Regions from separate parts of the Homo sapiens genome. Here all the other regions are linked to region 1. The links come from fine-mapping of genetic effects on gene expression. A gene starts in region 1. Each other region holds a variant in brackets. All regions are shown on one strand. Distances are from middle to middle.

The links. PIP is the estimated chance that this variant, and not a neighbour inherited with it, causes the effect. A credible set is the group of variants that fine-mapping cannot tell apart.
Region 2: its variant is the best candidate, but not a certain one, in a credible set for the expression of NAP1L4 in whole blood (TOPMed, PIP 0.58).
Region 3: its variant is the best candidate, but not a certain one, in a credible set for the expression of NAP1L4 in skeletal muscle (GTEx, PIP 0.57).
Region 4: its variant is the best candidate, but not a certain one, in a credible set for the expression of NAP1L4 in nucleus accumbens (GTEx, PIP 0.57).
Region 5: its variant is the best candidate, but not a certain one, in a credible set for the expression of NAP1L4 in activated naive CD4 T cells (Schmiedel 2018, PIP 0.84).

The regions. Positions count from the first base shown.
Region 1 is chr11:2,990,327-2,994,441 of GRCh38, forward strand. NAP1L4 (nucleosome assembly protein 1 like 4) reads right to left here and starts at 2,003. Exons shown (of 16, transcript NM_005969.4): 1 at 1,928-2,003. RefSeq lists enhancers at 572-1,428, 1,973-2,267.
Region 2 is chr11:2,965,592-2,969,706 of GRCh38, forward strand. All of the region lies in intron 7 of NAP1L4 (nucleosome assembly protein 1 like 4), which reads right to left. Among named protein-coding and RNA genes, the nearest start is that of SNORA54, 3.8 kb to the left of the region's middle. RefSeq lists an enhancer at 1-27 and a silencer at 735-935. The variant A/G (reference allele first, on the strand shown) is at 2,025.
Region 3 is chr11:2,914,514-2,918,628 of GRCh38, forward strand. It overlaps SLC67A1 (solute carrier family 67 member 1), which reads left to right. Exons shown (of 11, transcript NM_002555.6): 6 at 2,109-2,227; 7 at 3,475-3,582. Among named protein-coding and RNA genes, the nearest start is that of PHLDA2, 13 kb to the right of the region's middle. RefSeq lists an enhancer at 1-415. The variant G/T (reference allele first, on the strand shown) is at 2,032.
Region 4 is chr11:2,941,195-2,945,309 of GRCh38, forward strand. NAP1L4 (nucleosome assembly protein 1 like 4) reads right to left here. Exons shown (of 16, transcript NM_005969.4): 16 at 3,243-4,115. Among named protein-coding and RNA genes, the nearest start is that of PHLDA2, 14 kb to the left of the region's middle. The variant C/G (reference allele first, on the strand shown) is at 2,129.
Region 5 is chr11:2,935,947-2,940,061 of GRCh38, forward strand. No RefSeq gene overlaps it. Among named protein-coding and RNA genes, the nearest start is that of PHLDA2, 8.6 kb to the left of the region's middle. The variant C/CAGTGTGAATACGCTT (reference allele first, on the strand shown) is at 1,968.

The sequences.
Region 1 (4,115 bases):
TGAACTACTACTAAATAACTAATTTTCTCTCTCTCTGTAGTCACTCATTTTATCTTTGGATTACTTTCCCATTCTATCACCACGTTGCTTTCTCTGAACTTCATTTTACATTTGCATATTATTTATTCCATTAGCAATTGCTCATCCCAGTCTGAATCTCAAAATTCTACTATAGGAGGCATTTGGCATTCTGTGGAATAAGAGAATTTTGAGATGGAAATGATCAACCAGCTCAAAACCTCGTAAGCTAGAGTTCAGTTAAGCTTAGCACAATGATGAAAACAATTTCTCATTAAAACTTCTTTCATTCCCTCTACAGAAGCAGTAACCCTGGGTACAGTTAAAACTGCCTGGGTCTTTAAGCTTTGTCACCTCGGACAAGTCATTATACCTAACCTCCCAGGGCCTCAGCTTCCAGAGTAGTTAAATGGAAAAACAATAGCATCTATCTCAGGTTATTAGATTATGAAATGAGTTAACACACGCAAACAGGCTGAAAGAGTCCCTGGTGCGCAGTGCAGGTATTAGTCATTTAGAGGTATAGTTACTATTACAGGAAGGTAGTAACTTAGAAAGACTTACCTTTAAGGTCCAACAACCTAATCTACATATTTGTATATTTCTAAGGTAAGAGAATTTTTAAAAGTCTATTTTCACCCCGTAAACCTAATGCAGGAGGATAAGGCACGGGTTACTACAGGAAAAAGTAATGCAGACTGGGGGATGCGAACCAAAGCACAGACGAATGTGCCCCGACGATTCCTCCGAGAACATAATGAAATGGCGGACCTTCCTGCCAGAGGAGCGCACAGTCACCCAGGCAGGTGATGTGACACACACGTTAGGGTCTAAAGGTCCCAAGGCTGGAGTCCCCTTTACTGGACCCTAAACATGTCTGCCTCCTGCCCCGCAATCAGACTTAGAGAACTGTGGACGGTGGAAAGTCTTATCATGACCAGGCCATCCTTCGCTGGGGTGAACGGAAAGCATTCAGAAGGGGAAAATTGAAAACAACAAAGACTCTGGTCAGGTCAAAAAATACAAATGTGACCTCTTCCACCATCTCTGAACTGAAAGAAAAGCATGGCACTTTCCCATCCATAACATGTACAATTTTTTTTTTTGGAGATTTTGCTTTTCCCTTGTGAAAGACGGTTTTAAATAGTAAACAGACTTGCTGCCCACCTTGGCTGGGAAACCAAGTCCCGTGAGTAACTAGTCTAAGGCCACTCAGGCCAGTCCTCGGGGAGCGCACGCCGCCCAGCTCGCTCCCACCGCACAGCTCCCAACAGCTAAGAAGCAACGCCAAGGACTTTCTTCCCCGTCAGACATGCCCTCGGCCACACCAAACTGACATCAAAACCCCAGTTAGCCCAGCCTGACCCCACAGAGGCTCACGATGACAACCGCCCTACGGAAAAACTCAAATTCCTAAACATCTAATAAAGAAGTCCTGGACGTCTCCACCTTAAAAACGGGAAGCCTGAACGCTCCGGCGCGCCCGGCCGTGTAACCGCCACAGCCCCCGCACGCGGGGCGGGCTGGGCTAGCGGGAGATTTGAGCGGCCGCCGCCTCTCGCCGTCTTCGCCTCCTCCAAGGGGCCGCCGCCCAGGAGGCCGCCCGCGGCGCAGAACAAAGCGCCTTGACCTTCAGTGAGGCGGGCAGCCGGGCGAGGCGCGCCGGGAGTTGGGAGGGGCCTCCCGCCAGCGCCCCAGGCCCGGGCTCCAGGCCCCAAGCCCCAGGCCCCGCCGCGGCCGCCGCTGCCTGCCCCGACCAGAACGCGGCCCCGCCCCTGCCCCACCGCCCCGAGGCTTCCAGAGATGGCCGCCGCCGCGCCCGCGCCGGACCCGCGGCCCCACCCGCCCGTCCGGGCCCGGCCGCCCTCCCCAGCGCGCCGTTACCGGCCCAGCACCCGTGTCTCCGCACCTCACGCCTCCTGCGGCAGTGGCGGCGACCCTAGCTTCGCTCGCTTTGGGGCTGCGCCGCCGTGGCCTCCAACAACGCCGGCTCCCATTGGCCGAGGCTCCTAGCTCCTCTCTCCGCGAGCAAGACAGGCTGCGATTCGCCGAGCGCGGCGCAAGTCAACTGCGCTTCGCGCCGCAGTCAGCAACCAATCACAAGCCTCCGAAGAAACGCCGCGCCATATGCAAATATTCCTCCGCGCGGCGCGCGCCCTGCGTTCCTCCGCCTCTTTAAATGGGGCGGGGCAAGGTGGAGACCGCGTGTGTGGTTCCGGGGGGTCCCGGGTCCCCGCTCCCGGGACCTTCCCCGGGTGGCACCACATCCTCGCGGGACACTGGGCACCACCCCTCTCCGTGGGCCCCGGCCCCAGCCGTCTTTATCTCCTGCGCCCTCCCAGTTCCCTAGTTCAATCCCGTCCGCGGCGGGTCGGTGCCTCCAGCACTCCGTGCGCCCGCTGATGTGAGAACCCCACCTCCCATGTCGTCCCCTCGCGCTACTCCTTGAGAACATCGCGGAGGGCCCCTCCGCCTGGGAGCCGTTTTCAACCAGCCCCGTTAGTGGTTGGGACGTAAGCCTAACCCCCGCTCATCCCCCAGGTCCCAGGTTGGAGAACACTTCCTCTGCGAAGAGGTCGGGGCTGGGTCACCTCCGCGGACAGGACGGGACTAGCCACTGCCTGCATCTCTTCCCCCACGCCCTGAGCCCCGCAGTGTCCCAGCAGCCTAGTTCTGGCCTGCGGGAGACCCTGTCGGACAAGGAGGAAAAGCAGTGCGCACTGGGCCCTCAGATCAGCCCCCTGAAGCAGAGCAGGGCAGAGGGCTGGGGAGGAGCTGGCCTGTTTCGCCCGCCCTGTTCTCCCTCTCATGGTGCCCTCTGGGCTGGGGTGAAGGTACCAGCCCCAGCCTGTGCACATCACATTTTGTAGAAAGGCATCCAATTTGATTGGAAAATAACCCCTACGCTGGGACTTTTGAGGCTGGTTCATTTCCATGTTCAACCGTGCCATTGGGGGTCTTCAAGTCTAATGTGCATTTTTTTCAGAAACGTTCTCTTTTGGGATGACGTTACTTTTGAAACAATTGCTAATTATTATTATTATTAGCAAGTTATTCCTGTAATGGGGAAAATTTGAAACCATTTAAAGGCTCCTGGTTGAGGGATTAAGAACATAGCGTCGGTTATAAACCTCAGAGGTAAGCTGGGAGGCTGAGGCAGGAGGATTCCTTGAGCCCAGAAATTCAAGTCCAGCCTGGGCAACATAGTGAAACCTCATCTCTAAAAAGAAATTAATGCGGAGCGCCGTGGCTCAGGCCTGTAAACCCAGCACTCTGGGAGGCAGAGGCAACAAGTCCAGCCTGGGCAACATAGAGCACCCTTCCCCTGCTCCAAAAACAACAACAACAAAAAATTACCCAGGCGTGGTGGCTCAGGCCTGTAATACCAGCTACTTGGGAGGCTGAGGTGGGAGAATTACCTGAGCCCGTGAGGTCAAGGCTGCAGTGAGCAGAGATTGGGCCACTGCACTCCAGCCTGGGTAACCAGAGGGGGACATTGTCTCAAAAAGACAAAAAAAAGGCCGGGCGCGGTGGCTCAAGCCTGTAATCCCAGCACTTTGGGAGGCCGAGGTGGGCCGATCACGATGTCAGGAGATCGAGACCATCCTGGCTAACACGGTGAAACCCCGTCTCTACTAAAAATACAAAAAAATTAGCCGTGCATTGTGGCGGACGCCCTAGTCCCAGCTACTCGGGAGGCTGAGGCAGGAGAATGGCGTGAACCCGGGAGGCGGAGCTTACAGTGTGAGCCGAGATCGCACCACTGCACTCCAGCCTGGGCGACAGAGCGAGACTCCATCTCAAAAAATAAAAAATAAAAAAAAAACTAATTAAAACAAAAAACATAAAAACCCCTCAGAGGTGACCGGTGCATGGCTGAGGCCTGACCCACACAGCGTGCTCAGTCCTGTCTGGCCATCTGTGTTTTAGGAGAGGGTGTGTGTGCTCTCAATTCCTATTTTACTTATTTAGACTTTCAGACTTTTCTACAAAGGTCATGCTTTATGCTTTGCGGAAGCATAAACAATGATAGAAATGACACAAGAACCTGGGCATTTGAAGTTTGGAGGGTCCTTCCTCCCATCTAATAAAGTCTC
Region 2 (4,115 bases), 25 kb before region 1:
AGACTGGAGTGCAATGGTGTGATCTTGGTCACTGCAAGCTCCGCCTCCCGGATTCAGCCTCCCGAGCAGCTGGGACTACAGGCACCCGCCAACCATGCCCGGCTAATTTTTTGTATTTTTAGTAGAGACGGGGTTTCACCGTGTTAGCCAGGATGGTCTCGATCTCCTGACCTTGTGATCCACCCACCTCGGCCTCCCAAAGTGCTGGGATTACAGGCGTGAGCCACCGCGCCCGGCCACACACGGTTACTTCTTTAAGAACACTTACACAGAGCGTGTCTGAGATCCAACTTGCGGGCACCATGGAAGAGTGGGCATCATGGAAGAGCGTACAATTCTTATCTGTGTCTGTATCATTTTACAAGTGATATTTCTTTAAACTCATTTTGCCAATACCTGTCAGCTTAGAAAGTCCCAGTGAGGAAAGTCAGAAGAGGAGTGGGAAGACCTGAATCCTCAGAAACACGCACTGGCAGCAGGCACTTCATTTGTAACATGGCAGTCACTTCTTTACCCCCAAAGTCTGGGCACTGAATCTCAAAATGTCTTGAAGTTGCATTAAGTTTTTCTTAAATCATTTTTTCTCTTTTTTAGTTGTATGTAATAATTGTACTATTTATGGGACACAGTGACATTTTGATGCACGTACACAATGTGTAATAAATCAGGACCATCACCTCAAACATTTATTTTTGAACATTCAAAACCCGTCCTCTAGCTTTCTGAAAACACGCACTAAATTATCGTTAGCCACATTCACCCTACAGTGCTACAACACACCAGAACTTACTCCTCCAATCTAGCAGTCACTCTGTATCTGATAACAGACCTCTCCCTATTTATCCTCCCCTCTCTCTCCCTCTTAGCCTTTATCAACAATTCTCTGCTTCGGTGAGCTGTTTTTGTAGCTCCCACATGAGTGTGAACGTGAGGTATTTCCCCCCTTTCTGTGCCTGATTTTCCGTTGAGTCCTAATTTTCAACTCTTCTGACATAAAACAAAACAAAAACAGCAACAAAAAGATACCTGCAAGTATCTAGACAAAAAGTAACCCAAAGGCAGTTGTGAAATGGGCCACACCTGCATGCGATGTTCAGTCTCCAATGCTGCGCGTGCCACCCACAGAAGCATGCGCTGGCTCTAGATCACCAAGATGAGCACTTCCACCAGCATGCTTTCCAGAGATGGCACTGGGACTTCAAACTCATCCCACTCAAAGACGCAGTGCCCACTCATGTTTTCCCAAACTTCATAAAATAACCATTATGTTCTAATTTCCTCAAGCAGCCATGTACCCTGTGGGTCAAAACTTTAAATGTCCAGGGCAAATATTAAGGTAATGCCCCACACTGGCAGACGCTCAGACTCAGGAAGCAAAGGCACAACACTGGAGGCATCGCACTCAGATCGTAAAGCCACCATCTCAAATTTTCCACTCTCCTTGCAGAAATATATTTCAACTATCCCCAAATTTAGAACAAAGGGACTCAGAGTTAATCCGCCTTTGGAATTTAATATTTGACCAAAATGAGCTGGGCATAGTGGCGCATATCTACAGTCCCAGCTACTCGAGAGGACCCCTTGAGGCCAGGAGACTGAGACAGCAGTGTCCTGACTGTGCCTATGAAAAGCCACTGACCTCTAGGCTGGGCATCATAGCAAGACCATGTCCCTTAAAAATGAAAGGGCTTCTCTCAGAAATGGCAGACTTCAAAACCAGACATTAAAAAACAACTGTTGGCCGGGCACGGTGGCTCACGCCTGTAATCCCAGCACTTTGGGAGGCCAAGGCAGGCGGATGATGAGGTCAGCAGATCGAGACCATCCTGGCTAACACAGTGAAACCCCGTCTCTACTAAAAATAAAAAAATTAGCCAGGCGTGGTGGCGGATGCCTGTAGTCCCAGCTACTCGGGAGGCTGAGGCAGGAGAATGGCGTGAACCCAGGAGGTGGAGCTTACAGTGAGCCAAGATCACGCCACTGCACTCCAGCCTGGGCGACAGAGCGAGACTCCGTTAAAAAAA[A/G]AAAAAAAAGAAAATATTGTTAAAAAAAAAAATCAAAATAGAATATGCTACCATTACCTGCTATGAGGTTACAAACAGTACAAATAACATTTCCTCATTCTCTGCATATTAAATGAGTACTCTATCAACCCCTGCATATCTTTTTAAAGCTGTTAAAACAAAAAGCAACAAAAGACACTTCATGGCTGAAATGCTGAAGCACTGACACTACTACAGAGGTGCTGGGAGAATGAGAAGGGACACCCCATTTAAAATGTGGCCAAATGCCTCACTGTGCTCTCAAAACCCAAGGCAGCACTATCCATGGCCAGTGACCCCAATGCCATAACCAGGTGGCCACACGCACAGAAGGGGACACCAAAACTCACTCAAGTCACCTAACTCTAGCTCCCAAACCCTGTTATCACTGCACCCCCAATCCCACGTGAAGATGCTCCAACCCTGCAGTGCAAGAATCACCCCAGGGCCCATGAGCCAGACAGCCCCACAGAACCAGAATCCGCACTGCCATGGCCACTCCCCATGCCCCCCGAAGTCTGAGAAGAACGAACTAAGAGCTAGTCTTTCCACCTGCTCCCTGCCATGGAGATTTTCAACTCTCAGGGTGCACATTAGAGTTCCTAAAACCAACTCAAAACTCTCAGTGCCATGGTGACAGATGAGGCATTTAGTTTTTGCTATTTAGTTTTCAAAGCTGCTCAGGTGATTGTAATACACAGGGTGAGACTACGGCTCTGGTAGACATTACTTAATTTTTCCAATGAAATTCTGGTGCATGGCATTCTTTTAAAAGTATGGTCTAGTCTTCTTAAATTCCACCTTTTCATATGAAAAGGAAGCTCAGATCAGGAAAAACCAAGGCTGTTCTATTTTAGATGCTTTCTGGTCTGGAAGGAGAATAAGAAATACATCATTCTTTCCATCTTTTCTCAAGTTTTGGCTTAGGACACAGGACAAGCATTAAACAAGGGAGGTAGCAGAGGCAGCAATGTGATACATTTGTGAAAACCATTAAAAACCGTAGCTGTAAAATCCTGTGCAAATTACAATGTAGCAGTTTGCAACGCACAGTGCCTATGCTCTGTGATGGGAGAAGCACTCTGCCCACACAAGCAGAGCCTGCAGCTGTCCTGAGCAAGTCTGAATGCAGACGTGCTGTTTCTGGGGACGCTGGAGCAATAAAAACTGACGGCAAGTCAGTCAGTGAGACTTAAGGCAAGATTTGTTTCTCTGTTCTAGAAACTTCTATTATAACTCATTTCAGGGAAAACCAAATTTGTTACCTTTTAATTTGTTCACCATTTCACTACAGAAAGTGAAATGTCAAGGCAAGACAAAATCAGAAATGGTGGTTGGGTTTTGTTGTTGTGTTGTTTTTTTTTTTTTTTTTTTTTGGAGACAGGGTCTCGTCACCCACCAGGATGGAGTGCAGCACCGTGATCACAGCTCACCACAGCCTCAACCTCCTCGGCTCAGGTGATCCTCCTGCCTCAGCCTCCCAAGTACCTGGGACCACAGGCGCACACCACAACGCCCAGCTAACTTTTCTATTTTTTGTAGAGATGGGATTTCGCGATGCTGCCCAGGCTGGTCTCAAACGATCTGCCTACCTTGACCTCCCAAAGTGCTGGGACTACAGACATGAGCCACCATGCCTGGCCTCTTTTTTTAAAAAAAATAGACACTTTTTCAAGAGAAATGATCAGAAAATATTAGCAACTTGTTCAAAAATTCACTGAGATGTGTGTGTACACACACACACACAAACAAACACACAGCTCATCCCTTCAAAATTCATTCTGCTCTGGTCTCCTGCCCTCACCCTTTCCTGCACACTCACACCACAGGAAGACAGAGATGGGCTCTGGAATCTATTCATAGGCTTTCCCACAGGCAAGACAACAGAGCTTTACAAGAGGTAAAAGGAACTGATTTGAAAGTTTTGGATCAGGCTGAAGCGCCCAGCTTTCCACCAAGAACTGCAAAAGACAGCATGGAAGCCCCACTGTGAATAAACCATTCACTGTGAGATCAGGACTGCTCATCTGAGGTCCTGGTCAGAGAAAGTGCCCTTCCGCCCACTATGAACAA
Region 3 (4,115 bases), 76 kb before region 1:
GCGTCTCCCCCAGCAGCCACCCACGGCCCCTGGCACAGTGGTGGGACCTGACTCCCTACCTCCTGGGGCCCTCCAGGGTCCCCCAGCCCCAGGCTTTCCTGTTGCCCACAGCAGCACAGGCCTTTGGTTTACCCACCACCGCTCGAGGGCCTGGCTTCCTGCCACCATGCCTTGCTTGTCACCAGCCTCCTAAAATAGCCATCGAAGTGGTGCGTCTGCTCCTGTGTACTTCTGGGACATCTGGCAAATAAGGCAGGTTTTGCCCCTGCCCAGCCAGACCCTGAGCTGTGACACGCAGGCCTCTGAGGCCAGGGTCCCAAAGAAAGGGCCCGTCTCTCTGGGGCTGGCCACAGGGGCCAGTTGTCCCTCCTGCGCCATACATCTGTGCCTGCTGGCTGGAGGGACAAGCTGTGGCGCCCGAGCCCAGCCGTTCCCCTTCCCTGGCATTTTCCCAAAGGAAGGGCCCATTCGTGCGGAACCCCAGCAGCCAGAAAACCTGAGTAGCTGACGTCCTGGGCGGTGGGTGCTGCAGGAGTCGGAGCTGCCCTGATGGATTGGCGGGGGCAGCAGCACAGGTGGGGTGGATATGCCAGCACCCCCCTAGACTGATGTGAGCTTAGGGGTCCCACCTCAGAAATGAGGGGTGGCCAATGCCCAGACTCTCTGGACTCAGAGGTGGCCCCACTGACTGTCCTAGTCAGTGTGGCTCCAAGTCCCCTCCTTGCTCTGGCAAACGGATGCAGGTAAGTGTGTGTACAAGTTTGCCCGTGTGTGTGTGTGTGTGCGCATGTGGCTGCGGTGAAGAGGGGCGAGGAAAGTCCTTTCTTTGAACTCCTTGGTGGGGACATGGTGGCCTGTGGCTGGCCTTGTTTTTGGGTGCAAGGGCATCTTCCAGGACCCTGACCCCTACTGGGTGCCTGTGCCCTGAGGCCCTGGCCAGGGCAGATTTGGAGGATCTGTTGAGGTTGGGGCAGAACTTGTGCTGCGTGTGTGAATGGCTCACACATTTGTCCGATCATCTAATGATCACTGCGGTCTCCGCGCAGGGTCCAACCCTGGACCACCTGCCCTCAGGGGCCAGATTCTAGCCAGCTGGTAAAGCGAGTCCTTCTCAGATGGCATGCTGTCTGGGAAGGAGGGCTGGGGCCTCACCAAGAAGGGCCCTTGCAGGCTGTATAGGAGTTTGCTCAGCTGCTGAGAGGAAGGCCGTGGCGGTCCGGCACAGGCCTGGAGGCCTTACAGACGAGCTCAGTAGGAAGCCCCAACTTCCTCCTGTCTCTCCCTGAGGGGAGGGGGCTGGCTGAGCCCCCAGGAGGCAATGGTGACAGTTGGAACAGCCAGCTTCAGGTGCCTCCGTCCCCAGGAGACAAGACCTGCCGATTCCTTCCAGGGGAATCACAGGCCAAGTTTCCAGGTGGGGACTCATGGCAGGGAAGCTGACGGTACAGCCAGAGTCCCAGGCCTTGGTAGTGGCCCAGGAAGGTGGGAAGGTGGCAAAGCAGCCTGAGGGGCACCTCCGGGGCTTTGCAAGGCTCTGGGATCCCAGCCCAAAGCCCCCTCCAAGCCCAGCATGCCCCACACTCTAGAAAGTGGGGAGGGGCCAACAGGAGGGGGGTCGGTTTCTGAGGGCCTGCTGAATGCCAGGCCCACCCTTGCCCACGCTGGGGAGGCAGCATAGCCATCCCCATGACACAGCACAGGTGCCCAGGTCTCGGAGAGCCCCTCCCAGGGACATGCACACCAGGCTTGCCCTTTGGAGCCTCTCCTGACCTTGGCCAGCGTGGGAGCTGCTGTTCCTGGGAGGATCCGCCACCTGCCCCAGGCGCTCACCAGCCTGGCTTCCACAGCTGCTACCCACAGGGGCTGCCGGGGCCTGCATGGCGTGGCGAGGGTCAGGGATGGTGAGCGCCCCACCCATTCCTTCATCCATCACCTAATAAATGTGCTCTGAGGGTCCCAGTCCCCACTCTTTAGGCCACAGACTGTGGGGATGTGGGAGGTCAGATTTAAGCTATTTTAGTGCAACCAAAG[G/T]TGCAGGTTGGGGGATGTGGCTGGGGCGCCTGGGCCCTGGGACCCGCACCCTGTGCAGCCGAGGCTGTTGCCCGCAGGATTCAGTGCCCGGCCATCCTGGCTGCCCTGGCCACCCTCCTGGGAGCTGTCCTCAGCTTCACCTGCATCCCCGCCAGCACCAAAGGGGCCAAAACTGACGCCCAGGCTCCACTGCCAGGTAAGCCCCGCCAGGTACACCCTGCCCAGATGCTGGGGCAATGGAAGGCATTGGCTAGGCCTGCGTGCTCCAGCCAAGGGGTACGGGGGGCCTGAGGGGAAATCTGGGGGCTACTCACACCCTCCTGCCTTCCTTGAACCCTTCCCAGCTGCTGACATCATAGAAGCCAAGTGAGGTGTGGTCATGAAGAGGTGGAAGTGGGGCTCCGGCAGGCAGGGAGGCCCAGAGAGGCAGGAAGGCCCAGACAGGGAAGGCGTTAGGAGGGGAGGCCCAGACAGGGAAGGTGCTAGGAGGGGAGGCCCAGAGAGGCCTGGGGAGGACCAGGAGGGACCCCCCCAATGGGGTGGGTGGGCCAGCAAGGCTCCGGAAGCTCTGAGTGTCCAGGGAGAGGCGAGGGTGCTGCCCGAGGGGCACTCATTGGTGGAGGGCAGAGGATGGTCAGGCTGGTCCCATGAGGAGAGGCCAAGGCTCCTCAGAGGGGGTCCCCTCAAGGCTGGCCCCCTGCTGAACGCAGCCCCTTTGTGCCAGGCACGTGGCAGGGCCCATGCCTCGGTGCCTAGGGACTAAGAGCCCAGCCTGGGCCAGAGGGACCCACCTGGGACCATCCTGGGGCAGGAGGCTGTCATGGAATTAACCTAGAAAGTCCAGGGGGAGGGCCGGGTGGAGATGGGCCTGTGGCGAGCACAGCAGAGCCAGAGAGGCAGGAGCCCCTGAGACAATAAGGAGGAAGGACTCGGTGAGCCGGGCTGGGGGCCTGTGGCTTCGCACTCAGAGGTGCCCGGTGGGCCAGGCCACGGCGGTGACTTGTGGCCACAGAGAGTGGTACAGTATTGCCATTGTCTTCCTCTGGGCTGGTGGCCTGGTCATGCTCTGCCCCAGGCCCCAGGCCAGGACCATATAGGAAGCAGCTATTGGTCCCTTGTTCAGGGACTGCCGCAGGCCTCCGCCACTGCATGCCCAGGTTGAGGCCAGTCTACCTGCGTGCAGAGAATGCTTTTCCTAAGTGCCTCTGGGGATTCAGGGGGCCCCTAGGAATGCGTAGAAGTGTGCTGAGGGGCGGTGCCCAACCTGGCAGCTGGGAGCATCACCAGCTCCCATTCCCACAAGTGAGCGGTGCTGAAGCCAAGGAAGGAAGCTTTACCCTGGCGGGCGCAACAGGGCCCTCCGAATGGCGAGGCCTGCAGCCGGGCGAGGGGTGGGCATTGGGACAATGGCCTTTGCAGGCCTGAATGGCCTCTCCGTGCCAGGCGGCCCCCGGGCCAGTGTGTTCGACCTGAAGGCCATCGCCTCCCTGCTGCGGCTGCCAGACGTCCCGAGGATCTTCCTGGTGAAGGTGGCCTCCAACTGCCCCACAGGTGAGTCCCAACTACTGCCCCAACAGCGGCCAGAGCCTGGCAGAGTCCCAGCTGCGGCCAGGGCCCGGCCCTTCCTCTGGCCTGTGCCCCACAGGTCCACACAGATGTGGTAGAGCAGGCAGGAGCGGGAGGAAGGCAGAAAAGTGTCTTTCCCACCTCCTTCCAGCCCCTCTACACTGCACACCTGCAGATCCCAGGGTGGGCCCCCACGGGCAGAGGGCCTGGCTCGCAGCCATGCATCCCTGTGTGCTCCTCAGCTCTTACCCTCATACCCTGTGGCCCCACGTCCTCTCCAGACAGCCTGAGATGCAGGGACAGCAGGTCTGAGTGTCACCACTGCCTTCTGCAGCATGCTGGCCCTGGGCCCTCTCAGCAGACCGTAGGGCGTCACGGACCACAGATAGGATAGCGAGCCACGGACAAGCCCACGAGCAGCCCTGTCCCTCAGAAGCCCCGCCTGGACTCCTCTAACTGAGAAGCCAGGAAGCAGGATGGAGAATAGGCCCTCAGCACTCCAACTGGCACCGGCCCCT
Region 4 (4,115 bases), 49 kb before region 1:
CCAGGCTGTGGCCAGGCTGGCCTGGCTGGCAGGGAACCACAGGCTTCTGCACACAGCAACCCCTTCTGCAGGCCCAGGGCTCCCTCAGGGCACTGCAGCTGGAGTTGGCTGAGTCTGGGACGGTCACTTCTCCCACCGCTGCCCCTGGCTGTTCCTCTGTTGCTCACCAGTTGCCCAGCCCTGAGCCCTGACTCAGAGCCAGGCAAGCCAAGGACCCAGCAGGGGCAGGTCAGAGGTCAGTAATATCAAGGTGTGCCTGGATGAGCCAGGCAGAGGCCAGGGGCTCCACCTACCCACCTGGCTGGCTGGTGGAGCCAGCTGGCTGCCCCCTACCCACCCCACCCCTGCCTCCCACCTCAGGGGCAAGCTTGGATCCTGGCAGCTCATGCTGACTCAGCCTGCCCAGCGATGGGGCTGGGGGCAGCCTAGGGCATTTTGAGAGTGGGACAAGATGGGTGGGGTGGCAGGAAGCCCTGGACCTGGGACTTGGGGAAGGGGGCTCTGGCCCCATGGGTGGCCCTTGGGCCTGGGGAGGTTTGCTGGGCAGCAGGACAGGAGCAGAGTGGGATGTCGGCTTGGTCCCAGCTCCACATAAACGGGAGTCATGAGCCTAGAGAGCAGACTGGCCAGGTAGGCTGACCTGGGGTACACACCACCCGCGGACCCACACGCCAGGCAGCTGTGGACAAGGGTCCCAGGTGACCCTGCTGGGGAAAGCAGCAGCCATCAGGTTCTAGGGAGCCATAGCTCCTGACTCAAGGGAAAAAACAGAATTTTAAGTGGAATCACCCTGTTTTGGGGACTTCTGAAAACTGAGCTTCAGGCCAGGCACGGTGGCTCACACGTGTAATCCCAGCACTTTGGGAGGCCAAGGTGGGTAGTTCACCTGAGGTCAGGAGTTCGAGACCAGCCTGGCCAACATGGTGAAACCCCATCTCTACTAAAAATACAAAAATTAGCCAGGTGCAGTGGTGCATGCCTGTCATCCCAACTACTTGGGAGACTGGGCAGGAGAATCGCTTGAACCTGGGAGGTGGAGATTGCAGTGAGCCGAGATGGTGTCACTGCACTCCAGGCTGGGCAATGGAGCGAGTCTCCGTCTCAAAAAAAAAAACAACGCTGAGCTTCATTGAGGACTAACTTATATACAACCAAATATACCCATTTTTGATGTAACTCAATGAATTCTGACAGACGTATACACCTGTGTAACCACTTCCATCCCTCTAAAGCGTTCCTTGGTCAGTCCCCCCACCCCAGATCCCTCCCAGGCAGTCACCGGCACTATAGCTTTGCAGGCTCTAGAACCGGACAGAAACAGGGCCCTCCAGGTCTTCTGTGCCTGGCTGCTTGCCGTGCGGGTTCTTTCCCTCCTTGCCCAGGAGCACCCGTGTGATGGCAGCTGACAGAAGCGTCTGAGCCACCTGTGCAGGGGGTGGGGGTGCCCCAGGCCCCACCTCCCATCTCCCGGGCTGCTCCCCAAACTCCTGCCCTGACCCCAGCGCCACTGGTTTTGAGTCTCAGTTCCCGCACAGGGTGAACAGTCACAGGAAGGGCAGGGGCTGGGGGAGCCCCAAGCGGGGTGGGGTGGGTGGGGCGGGGCTGGACGGTGAATGTCTGCCTCCCCAGCCAGGGGCTGAGTCGGGAAAAAGGAGGGCCTGGGCTAGCAGAGCTGAGGTTCTGTGGCAGACCCCCTGGCCTCCAGGACCAGAAGGGAAGCAGCCACCCTTCACCCAGGCCAGGCTGGGCGGCCGCCACAAGCCCCCACTTCCCAGCTGCCTTCCAGATGGTGGCTCTGGGCAAACCTCTCAACCACTCAGCGACTTTCGGTGACCACTGATGGCTGAGGTTCCTGAGCTGACAATGGCCTGGGCCTGGGATGGTTCCTGGGCTCCTTGGCCACTGGAGAATGACCTTCCCTTTTCTGAGACCCTGGGGTGCAGGCAGGACACGGCGGCCATGCAGGGGTGACAGAGGCCGGAGGTGCTGAGGTCCTGGGGGAGACCAGGTTGCCTGCACCCTCGGGCCTCCACAGCTCCCCAGGCTTCACGTTGAGGTCCTGCACCCAGATGTCCTTGGAACTGGGCAGCATCCACGAACCATGCACTCCCAAGGTCAGACTCACTGG[C/G]GGACACAGGAACCCAGCTCAGTGAAGGATGCACGCAGGTGGGTGCAGGGTTCTCACACACTTCTTACTCAAAAGGGAAAATCCAGATACCCCCACCCCCAGAAGCCACAATGTTAAGCCCTTTCCCCTGCTTGTGCAAATCTGATCGAAAAGTGCAAATCTGATCTAAAACCACCCAGCTAGGTAGTGAGGGGCACTCCCCAAGCCTGTGGAGCCCTTCCTAAAAAGGCACTCTGGGCACCCAGTGGACAGGGCAGTGTGCAGGGCTGTCTCCGCAGCTGAAGGGCGGGTCACTGCAAAACAGCATATGCCCCTTGGATTATGGGGTCTGACCCTGGGCAGACCAAGTAAGGCCAGGGTGCTGCTCACCCATGGGGCCACCCTGAGGCTGGGGAGCCTGAGACCAAGCTCCCCCAGGTACTTCACAGGATGGGGACGGAGGAACGGGTGCAGGAAGCACAGACATCAGGCTCCCCGGCCCTTGGGGGTATGCTGCAAGCATTCACTTCCCAGCCTGCACCTGCCCTTCCTGCTGCTCCCAGAGAGAAGGCAGCCCACGGGTGAGCTGGAGGCAGCAGGGCGGGGCCAGCCACGTGGGGAGCAATGAGCCAGCTCCACGGCTGCCTTCTCATGACAGCGTTTCATTCACCAGGCGGCGCTGCCAAGGCTGGGATTCCCACGGTCAGGTCAGGAAGTGCCTGTGCAGCAGGTGTTGAGTGCCTCCTCTCATTGTGGATGGAAGAGACACGGGGAAAAGCTTCAGAGAGCAAACACACCTAACATGGGCTTTATCAGGAAGTTCTCCTCTTGGAGCCTTCTGGATCTACAAAGCACAGTCCCACTAACTCTGAGAAATGATCCCCTCCTGGGGGCAGGAACAGTCTTCCCCTGGGCCCGCAGTGAAGCTGCCTGCATACAGCAGCAACTTAGGTGTAGTGGGGGGGCTACAGCAGCCTCTGCCTCAAACTGAGCTTTCAAGGCCTCAGAAGTAAACTGTACAACCGGTCTTGGAGCCACCAATACCCAGGGCTCAACAGAGCCCAACAGGTGTGCAGCACATCTGAGCCTTCCCCACCACATTCCCCTGCAAAGACCCACATGGCACAGTGCTGACTCAATGTTTCACCACTTTAATAGAATATTCTAACTATTCTGTACAAATTGAAAACACTGTATTCAGTTACAAATGTGTTCTAAGGTTAGGCCGAGCACTCTCCACAGGCCTGGTCAGTGCGGACACGGCCATCCCCGGCTGCCGGAGAGCGCCGTCACCCACTTGAAAACCCCACCCACCAGCCGCCAAGCGGTCACACCAAACCCAGGACCTTCAGACAGGATGAATGGTGGGGCCCCGCAATGGGGCTACTGAGAAAGCAGGACTTGACGCTCATACGCTCCACTGAAACGCAGGACTTCCCAGCCCAGTCCCTCAGTGGAGAAGACTGCCGAAGCCCGGCTCCGGCAGCAGGGTGGCGCCTGCGTCATGAGGACGGGCTCGCATCTTCAGCCCTGGTGGCAGGGAGCGGCGTTTCTTCCGCACAGGCCTTGCGCCTGCTAGGAAGTGGCACATCTTCCTGCTCAGGGCACCAAGGTGGTTCAGAAACGTTAAGGACGAGCCACAGCGAAAAGCCGCAGTCCTCACAGGCAAGAAGGGATAAATAAATATGAGGTGACCCGCAGCAGCTCTCACCTGGGCTGGTGTGTCACAACCCTGACCCACCCCTAAAAAAAAAAAAAAATCAAGAAGCAACATCCTAAGGAGAACAGGGCCCTACTCTACACAGCCCTTTCTGAGATGATCGGCATACAGCAGGTGATGCAGGCTGCACACTCAGCAGATTCAGCGGCTGGAAACAGCAAGTGGGTTTCTTCGGATGAAAGGGAAGAATTCAGTCCAACTGCAGGAGGGGTGGGAGAGGTTCCAGATCCTGGGAACCACATCACCAGACCTCGGCCCTTTTTGCCAAGTGACCCCCACCCCACCCTG
Region 5 (4,115 bases), 54 kb before region 1:
TTGCACTCCAGCCTGGGCAACAGAGCAAGAAAAAATGAAAAAAAAAAAAAAATAATAAAAACAAAATTGAGTGTTCATCTCTCATGTCCCCACCTAGGGCCACTCTCATCCTTTTTTGTTTGTTTGTTTGAGATGGGGTCTTGCTCTGTTGCCCAGACTGAGTGCAGTGGCGTGATCTTGGCTCACTGCAACCTCCGCCTCCCAGGCTCAAGCAATCCTCTCGCCTCAGCCTCCTGAGTAGCTGGGACCACAGGTGTGTACCTCCATACCCAGCTAATTTTTTGTATTTTTGTAGAGACAGGGTTTCACCGTGTTGCCCATGCTGGTCCTGAACTCCTGAGCTCAAGCAATCCACCCATGTCAGCCTCCCAAAGTGCTGAGATTACAGACATGAGCCACTGAGCCTGGCCTCTTTTTGTTTTATTATTATTATAAATTTTTGAGACAGGGTCTTGCTCTGTCACCCAGACTGGAGTGCAGTGGTGCAATAATGGCTCACTGCAGCCTTGACCTCCTGAGGTTGTGATCCTCCCACCTCAGCCTTCTGAGTAGCTGGGACTACAAGGCACATGCCACCATGCCTGGCTACTTTGTATATTTTTTGTAGAGATGGGGTCTCACTGTGTTTCCCAAGCTGGTCTTGAACTCCTGGGCTCAGGCAATCCGCCTGCCTCATCCTCCCAAAGTATTGGAATTACAGGTGTGAGCCACTGTGCCTGGCCTCATCCTTTTTAAAAAAGCATTTACATTTCCTTTAACAATTGATTTTTGTTTGTTTGTTTTTGAGACGGAGTCCCACTCTGTCATCCAGGCTAGAGTGCAGTGGCACGTTCTTGGCTCTCTGCAACCTCCGCCTCCTGGGTTCAAGTGATTCTCCTGCCTCAGCCCCCTGAGTAGCTGGGACTACAGGCATGTGGCACCACGCCCGGCTAATTTTTTTGTATTTTTAGTAAAGATGGGGTTTCACCATGTTGTCCAGGCTGGTCTTGAACTCCTGCCCTCAGGTGATCCACTTGCCTTGGCCTCCCAAAGTGGTGGGATTACAGGAGTGAGCCACAGCACCCAACCTCCTTTAATAATTAAATATAGGATTGCCCTGTGATCCAACAATTCCACTTCTCATTCACATGCTCACAAGAACTAAAAGTTAGAGTCTCTCCTAGAGATCCATGCACACCCATATTCCCAGCAGCATGCCAAAAGGTAGAAGCCACCAAGTATCCACTGACAATGGGCACACACGATGTGGTCCACACACACACTGAATAGTCACTGCCTTAAAATGGAAGGGAAATCTGGTCGGGCACGTGGCTCACACCTGTAATCCCAGCACTTTGGGAGGCCAAGGCAGGTGGATCACCTGAAAAATTGGCCAGGCGTGGTGATGCCTGCCTGTAATCCCAGCTACTTGGAAGGCTGAGGCAGGAGAATCGCTTGAACCCAGGAGGCGGAGGTTGCGGTGAGCCAAGATTGCACCATTGCACACCAGCCTGGGCAACAAGAGTGAAACTCCATCTCAAAAAAAAAAAAAAAAAAAAGGAAGGGAATTCTAACACAAGCTACAGCACGGATGGACTCTGAGGACACTATGCTGAGTGAAATAAGCCAGACACAAAAAGACAAGTACTGAATGATTCCACATGTACCAGGTCCCAAGAGTCGTCAGATTCAGAGACAGAAGGTAGGAGGGCAGGTGCCAGGAGCTGGAGAGGACAATGGGGAGTTTAATAGGGACACAGTTTCCATTTGGGGAGATGAGAAATCATGGAGGCAGATGCTGATGGCGGCTGCATGACAGTGTGAATATGCTTAGTGTGAATATACTCAGTGTGAATACGCTCAGTGTGAATATGCTGAGTATGCTCGGTGTGAATATGCTCAGTGTGAATATGCTCAGTGTGAATATGCTCGGTGTGAATACGCTCGGTGTGAATACGCTCGGTGTGAATATGCTGTGTGAAAATGCT[C/CAGTGTGAATACGCTT]GGTGTGAATACGCTTGGTGTGAATACGCTTGTAATATGCTCGGTGTGAATATGCTTTGTGTGAATATGCTTTGTGTGAAAATGCTTAGTGTGAATACGCTCAGTGTGAATACGCTCGGTGTGAATATGCTCGGTGTGAATATGCTCGGTGTGGTGTGAATATGCTTGTAATATGCTCGGTGTGAATATGCTTTGTGTGAATATGCTTTGTGTGAAAATGCTTAGTGTGAATACGCTTAGTGTGAATACGCTCGGTGTGAATATGCTCGGTGTGAATATGCTCGGTGTGAATACGCTTAGTGTGAATACGCTCGGTGTGAATATGCTCGGTGTGAATATGCTCGGTGTGGTGTGAATATGCTTGTAATATGCTCGGTGTGAATATGCTCAGTGTGAAAATGCTTAGTGTGAATACGCTTAGTGTGAATATGCTTGGTGTGAATATGCTCGGTGTGAATATGCTTGGTGTGAATATGCTTGTAATATGCTCGGTGTGAATATGCTTTGTGTGAATATGCTGTGAATATGCTCAGTGTGAAAATGCTTAGTGTGAATACGCTTAGTGTGAATACGCTTAGTGTGAATATGCTTAGTGTGAATACGCTTAGTGTGAATATGCTCGGTGTGAATATGCTTAGTGTGAATACGCTGTGAATACGCTTAGTGTGAATATGCTCGGTGTGAATATGCTCGGTGTGAATATGCTCGGTGTGGTGTGAATATGCTTGTAATATGCTCGGTGTAAATATGCTCAGTGTGAAAATGCTTAGTGTGAATACGCTTAGTGTGAATATGCTTGGTGTGAATATGCTCGGTGTGAATATGCTTGGTGTGAATATGCTTGTAATATGCTCGGTGTGAATATGCTTTGTGTGAATATGCTTTGTGTGAATATGCTCAGTGTGAAAATGCTTAGTGTGAATACGCTTAGTGTGAATATGCTCGGTGTGAATATGCTCGGTGTGAATATGCTTAGTGTGAATACGCTGTGAATACGCTTAGTGTGAATATGCTGTGTGAATATGCTTAGTGTAACTATGCTTAGTGGCACTGAACTGTGCACTTTAAAAAATGGTTAAGAATGTAACTTGTGATGTACCCTTTACCAGTTTTAAAAATGCATTTACATATGAATATCCATGCAGGCGGGGGTATGAGCTTGTGTCTCTTCCTCTGTCTGGGCCATCTTCCAGGAACCCCCCACCCCAGCCCTCATTATCTGGAATCCTCCATGTCTCAGCCACCCCTTGTGATGGTTGGGCTTGGGCTGGGTCCCTGTTGCTGTCATCTTACATGGCACTGCCTTCCTGCACACCAGACATGGCACTGCTGGGCTAGCAAGGCCCTCAGATGTGTGGTAACTGCCAAAATGGCCTGCCAGTGGGGCTGTTCCTATTCACCCTTTCCCCCAAGGGCTGCAATGCCAATCTCCCCATGGCTAGGCCAATGGTGGGCACTCTGTACTTAAAAAAAAAAGTCAATCTGGGCAATAGCTCACGCCTGTAATCCAACACTTTGGGAGGTCAAGGTGAGTGGATCACTTGGGTTCAGGAGTTTGAGACCAGCCTGGCCCACATGGTGAAACCCTGTCTCTACTAAGAATAGAAAAAATTACCCTAGTGCAGTGGCATGCACCTGTAATCCCAGCTACTCGGGAGGCTGGGGCAGAAGAATTGCTTCACCCTGGGAGGTAGAGGTTGCAGTGAGCTGAGAAAGTGTCACTGCACTCCAGCCTGGGCCATAGAGTGAGACCCTGTCTCAGGAAAAACCAAACAACCAAACAAACGAACAAAACAACAACAACAACAACAACAAAACCCCACAATCTGGTGGTCAAAAACTGAGGTCTTCACACACATTTCTCTATCCCTGGGGTGGGGGCAGCCATCTCTCTGGGTGTCTGTGGCCTTTGGCGTGGCTGTCTTTTCCCCTCTTCATGTGCTTTGGTCTGTTTGAAAGACCCCTTTCATGGACTGAATGGTGGCCCCCAATAAGACATATCCATGTTCTACTCCCTGAAACCCACGAATGTTACCTTTGATGGCAAATGGGTGAACATGACCTTAGTGGCTAGGGTGTGATATAGGAAAGGCCCCTGAGAGCAGGAGCTTCCCCTGGACTACCCAGGTGGGCCTCACAAGGGAGAAC